Linked DNA regions of Homo sapiens: region 1 is linked to region 2. Evidence: fine-mapped QTL for protein levels in blood plasma. A gene starts in region 2. The other region holds a variant in brackets. All regions are shown on one strand. Distances are from middle to middle.

Region 1 (2,924 bases), 1.2 Mb after region 2:
TAGATGAAAATGAGAGAGTTACTGGGAACAGAGGCCAAGGTTAGTTTGTTTTGTCATAGCAAAGAATGTTGCTGCATGGTGCCCCTGTCCAGGAGACGTGTGAAATTTTGAACTTGAGGGTGATGACTTAGGTAGTATGTGGTGAAATGAACTTCTAAGGAGCAAAGCTCAAGAGGTGTCCTGCCTGCATTGAACTACCTATGCTCTTATGTGTGACCAAACAAATGACCTCAAGTTGAAATTTGTGTTTAAATGAAAAGCTGAGCTTAAAAGTTTGGAAAATTTGCAGCCTGGCCAAGTGGCAAAAAAAAAAAAAAAAAAAAAAAAAAAAAAAAAGCTGATTTTCAGGGGGGAAATTAAAGAAGGCTTCAGAAATTTGCATAAAAAGGAGCCCAGTGCTAACAGCCAAGACAATGGGGGAAAAGGCTTGAAGGCATTTCAGAGACCTTTGCAGCAGCCCTTGGTATCACTGACCCTGGGACCTATGAGAGAAGAATGGTTTCCTCTACCAGACCCCTGGCCTTGCTTCTGTGTGTAGCCTGAGGACACCACTGCCTGCATCCTGCAGCTCCAGCTCCAGCTGCAACTCCAGCTCCAGTCATGGTTCAAAGATGTACAGGTACAGCTTGGGTTACTGCTTCACAGGGTATAATTTGAGGGGGACCAGGGGCAGAATCATATAATTTGGCTGCATTTTCCTACTAAAACTGACATCATATCATAATATTTCATGTTGGTGGTTGGGTCTGGATGCCAAGGTGAGGAGAGGTGAAAAGTGGGGATGGTGTTCAGAGTTTGCAGGACTAGAGTGGTGGGCTCGGAGCTTATTTGGAGAGAGGGGTATTGTACATTTTCAGGGCATGGGGGTGGGGCGCAGATTCTTTACCAATGGTTAAGCACCATCTCCTTGATGCTGTCCTCATGATATTGAGTTCTCATGAGATTTGCGGGGTTTTTTGTTTGTTTTTTTTTATAGTGTGTGGCACCACTTTCCTCTCTCTCTTGCTCTTACTTTGGCCATATGGGACATCTCTTTGCTCCTTGGCCTTCTGGGATAATTGGGAAGCTTCCTGAGTCCTGCCAGATGTAGAACCCACTTTGCCTTCTTTACAGTCTGCAGAACCATGAGGCAATTAAACCTCTTTTCTTTATGATCATAGAGAAAATTGGTACTGTGGAGTGGAGCTATGAAATGCCTTCAAGGCCCTTTTTCCATTGTCTTGGCTATTAGCACTCAGGTTTTGTTTTATGCATATATCTAAGCCTTCTTGAATTTTACTTCTGAAAATGGACTTTTCTTCTTTTACCTCATTACCTGGCTTTGACAAATATACCTGAAAATGTAGAAGACAGCTTAGAAGTGGGTAACAGACAGAGGCAGAGAGTTTGGAGGTCTTAGAAGAACAGAATAAGATAAAAGAAAGTTTGGACCATTGTAGAGACTTGTTAAATAGTTGTGATTAAAAGGTCAACAGAAGAATGGACAATGAAGGCCAGAGTGAGGAGGTCTGAGGTGGAAATCAGGAACTTACTGGGA[A/G]CAGAAGCAAAAGTTACTTTTGTTTGGCATTAACAAAGAAAGTGACTGCATGGTGGCCCCGCCCTGGAGATCTGTGAAACTCTGAACTTGAGGGTGATGATTTAGGGTATATTCGGTGGAATGAACTTCTAACTAGCACAGCTGTAGATATGTCCCACCTGTGTCAAACAGCCTGTTCTCTTATGTGTGGACCAAAAAATGACTTCAAGTCAGAACTTACCTTTAAATGAGAAGTGGAGCTTAAAAGTTTGGTAAATTTGCAGGCTTTTTTCTCAAGTTATGCATTTTTAGAATGACATGAGGTTTGGAGGGACGGGGCAGGGTAATATGGTTTGGCTTCATGTCCCTGCCAAAACTGATGTCAAATTTTAGTTTTTAATGATGAAGTTTGGACAGTAGGTGTTGATGGACTCATGTGGGTGGGTTATTAATGAATGGTATAGCACCATCCCCTTGATGCTGTTTTCATGATAGTGAGTGAGTTTTTATGAGATCTGGTTGTTTATAAGTGGGTTGTACCTCTTTTTCTGTTTTGCTTCTGTGCTTATTATATGAGATGTCTCAGTCTTTTTTTTGCCCTCCTTTCTGACTTGAAGTTTCATGAGGCCTCTCAGAAGTGGAAACTACTATGCTTTTTATACAAGCTGCATAACTATGAGGCAGTTAAAACTTATTTTCACATGATAACACTGAAAATAGGTGCTGAGGAGTGAAACACTTGACTAAAGATACCTGACAATATGGGAAGAGGTTTGGGTCTGGGTAGTGGGCAGAGGTTAGAGTTTGGCATGCTCAGTAGGAGATGGGGATTTAAGGGGAATTTTGGAACATCTTTGAGATTGTTTAAATGATTATGATCAAAATGTTGACAGAAATGCTGACAGTGAAGGCCAGGTTAGGTGGTCTCATAGGGAAATGAGGAATTTAGTGGGAATTGGAACAAAGGTCACTTTTGTCTTGCCTTAGCCAAAAATGTGGCTGCTTTGTGCCCATTTTATAGGGATGTTTAAAACTTTGAACTTAAGTGTGATAATTTAGAATATCTAGCATAATAAATTTATAAGCAGTGAAGCATTCAAGAGGTTGTGTGTCTGCTTCTAATTGCCTGTCTTCATATGAGTGAGCATAGAAATGACCTAAAGTGTGAATTTATATTTAAAGAGAAAGCAGAGATTAAAAGTTTGGAATATATGTAGTCTGGACATGTGGTAGAACAGAAAGCCCATTTTTAGGGGAGTAATTTTGGATGACTTCAGAAATTGGCATATGTAAAAAGGAGCCAAGTGGTAATAGCCAAGACAATGGGGGAAAGGCTTCCAAGGCATTTGAGAGAGCTTTGCAGCATCTGCTTTCATCACAGGTTCTGAGGCCTAGGAGGAAAGAATGG
Region 2 (2,924 bases):
CACATGGCATCTCGCTGGCACCTCCTCCGCAACCCACGACATGTAGCACAGAACGGCTTCTCATCGCGGGGCTGGAGGCAGAACTTTCTGGTATTGCAGTCCGTGTCAGACAGGCACTGTGAGCCCTGTGGAGGGAATCTGTTATCACAAGGCTAGGAAACCCCCAACACGATGGAAGATGACTTATTATTGAAGGCAGGAGGCGGAGGGAGCCAAAGGACAGTGGCGCTGTGACAAACCCTGGGCAGCATCTTACTCTCCAGTGGAAATGGTTTTCTCCCACAAAGGGAAGCTCATGTCACCCGGGGAGACCTAGGCGCTGCAAAGGCTATTTGAGTTTGAAAAATTGACTTAACTCAGAATTTAGTTTTCCTGTGCTCTTTGTGAAAATGGGAAAAAATGTTTTCCTATGTGTGTCTTAACAGGTGAGTATGAGATTTTCAATATATCTTAACTCTAGAAGCTGGCTACAGTTTCATTAAACATACTATTGATGTTTGTGGCATTCCTATTTGATTTTTTACTCTAGTGAATCACATTTAGCTTAGAGACCCTTCCCTAAGTGAACTGTCCTTTGATTTTCAATGATGCCTCATTGACATAGAGAAAGAGATACCGAAGATCAATTGTTCTCATACACAGTTGATGCTTCTACATAGACATACAACGTAGGTGTAGCATATATGATATATGTAATAATCTATACGATATATAATAACATATACACATACATAAAGCGATTCCTAAAACAACTCTCTCTGTGAAGTTAGATGGTGACAAGGCAATGCATCATGGCCCTCTGTTTAAATTCTCATTCCCATGTTTGCTTGCTGGCTGTGTGAGCTTGGGTAAGCTCTTCAACATCTCTGAGTCTTATTTCCTCATCTGGAATTAGGGAATGTTTCACCTATCTCAAATTGTGAGGAAGAGTACATGACGTATTACATGTAAAAGAGCTGGCACATAGTAGAGCTTCCAAAGTGTTCGTTTATTTCGTGATTTATAGACAAACGTATGGCCGAATGATGTGAAAAGCCACTGTGTTTATTTCATACATTCACACTAAGGCCACTGATCCTACCAGGATGCCCTCCCAAATCCGAAACCAATTCAATTTACCTGCTAGGTAAGACATTTCATACATGAATCAGAATGACTTACTAAAGCCTAAACAAAACACCCCAGCTGTCAGCAGTCCCGTACCTCGCCCCCCTCCCTAGCAGCCTTACCTTCCGGGCCCCATGCAGGTCAGCAGAGCTCCTGATGTTGTTGAAGTCCAGGACCAGAGCTCCCAGGGGAGAGCAGAGCCAGCTCAGCCCCAGCAGGACGGCCGCCACCATCCTTCAATCCCGGGGCTCCTGGAGGGTCCCAGCACTGTGCGTCACCAAAGCGAGGCTGCTCTCCACCCAGAGCAGAGCTTCCACTAAGCTGGCAGCTCAGCACGTCGTCTGTTTGTCACTGCTTTTTCTGAAAGAAGTAAACCTTAGTCTGAGTAAGGTGCGTGAAATCGGCTGAGCAAAGTCTGACCAGCAGGTTCCTCCTGAAACTATTTATAACCAGATGTGCCTCCTCCCCGCTCCGTTCCTTCCTCCTGCCCCACACAGGCTTCAACAAATCCCTTCAAATCTGTTTGATCAATAGTTCAAAACAAGGACTCAATAGAAGGAGAGAAGAGGCAGGGCCATGCGGCTTCTCCTCCAGGGGTTCAATCCCTCTTAATTATTGCATATCAAAGTTAGTTCAAAGGGCCACGGCAGAGCAGGATGTCTGTATCAAAGGCAAACTCTGATAATCACCTGCATTTCCTACCTTCAGTAATCCTTTGGGGGTAGGGAGGGAGTCTGCCCTAAGATCTGTTTTCACAGCTAATTGTGCTCAAAGAAAGGATGAATCATACTGGCCAATATGCTATAGAGGATGCCAAAAACTAATGAGGTACAAAATACACTGAGAAGCTGTAAACTGGGCTTCAGATAGTGAGGACAGATAGAAAAAGAGAAAACGCCCCCTGATTAGCTCTGGCATCCAGATGTCAAAATCCCAACCGCTTAAAAGTTGTGAACGTAACAGCACCTGTTCTGACTAAATGCCATTTGGGAAATTACTTTCCTTTAAATGAAAATTGAACTGTTTGAAGTTAGGGTTATTAGGAAAATAATGTAATTTATGAAAATCCCATTTTTCAATGGTGGGAACAATGATAGCGCATTTTACACAATTCAGTACGAAGCTTTGGGTCCATTTTATCAGCAACATATTTAATTTGTGTTGCATTATGTAAAACTCACTTAAGCAGAACAAGGATCCAAGTCTCTGGCTGATTTCAGATGAAATTTCATGTATTTCCAATTTTCCTAATACGAATTTTTTAAAACTTCTGCTTCATCCCTTTCCTGTCTGATTTTTTTCCATTTGGACTATTAGTCAGGTAATTTAGACATGTGCTTATCACTGTCTTAAATACTTTAAGGGTAGAACAATCTAGATCTGGATCAAAAAATCATTTTTTCTCTTCATTGTTTCATTGCTCTTAGCATAGAGTCATCTAAAATGCATTTTTTCTATGCCATAAATGATAATCTTATTATTTACTACATTTTCCTGCAGAACAACCTAACATCAATTCATTGACATGAATCTCAGCATTCTGTGCATGGGAACATTCTCAATTTTGAGTAATGCAGTGCCATTCCGAGGGTGATGCAGGTGATTCGAGCCTTCCTACTACTTGGCCCTTGTCCTTGGGTTGGTATTGCTTGTCTACCTCTCGTATGGAAGTTACTTGTTTTAATCCCTTAAACTGACATCAAACAACACCCTTTGATAGCATGATAACCCTGGTGACTAGGGGTGTTACAGAATTTATTTTCAAGTTGTACAATTATGACCAAGGATAAAGGAAAGAGCCCCCAGGGTTCTGTCTC

Which allele goes with the higher level. Positions count from the first base shown, and alleles are read on the strand shown. Strength reflects both the effect of a copy and how common the allele is.
As copies of A replace G in region 1, the plasma level of the protein whose gene starts at base 1,524 in region 2 goes up (weak association).

What was found. PIP is the chance, under the fine-mapping model, that this variant and not a neighbour inherited with it causes the effect. The UK Biobank Pharma Proteomics Project read protein levels with antibody pairs (Olink). The fine-mapping took linkage between variants from a reference panel, not from the people measured, so its PIPs are less certain.
Region 1: its variant is fine-mapped to the plasma level of the DKK4 protein (UK Biobank, PIP 0.99).

The regions. Positions count from the first base shown.
Region 1 is chr8:43,527,319-43,530,242 of GRCh38, forward strand. No RefSeq gene overlaps it. Among named protein-coding and RNA genes, the nearest start is that of POTEA, 240 kb to the left of the region's middle. The variant A/G (reference allele first, on the strand shown) is at 1,538.
Region 2 is chr8:42,375,706-42,378,629 of GRCh38, forward strand. It overlaps DKK4 (dickkopf Wnt signaling pathway inhibitor 4), which reads right to left and starts at 1,524. Exons shown (of 4, transcript NM_014420.3): 1 at 1,230-1,524; 2 at 1-125. The coding sequence starts at 1,340.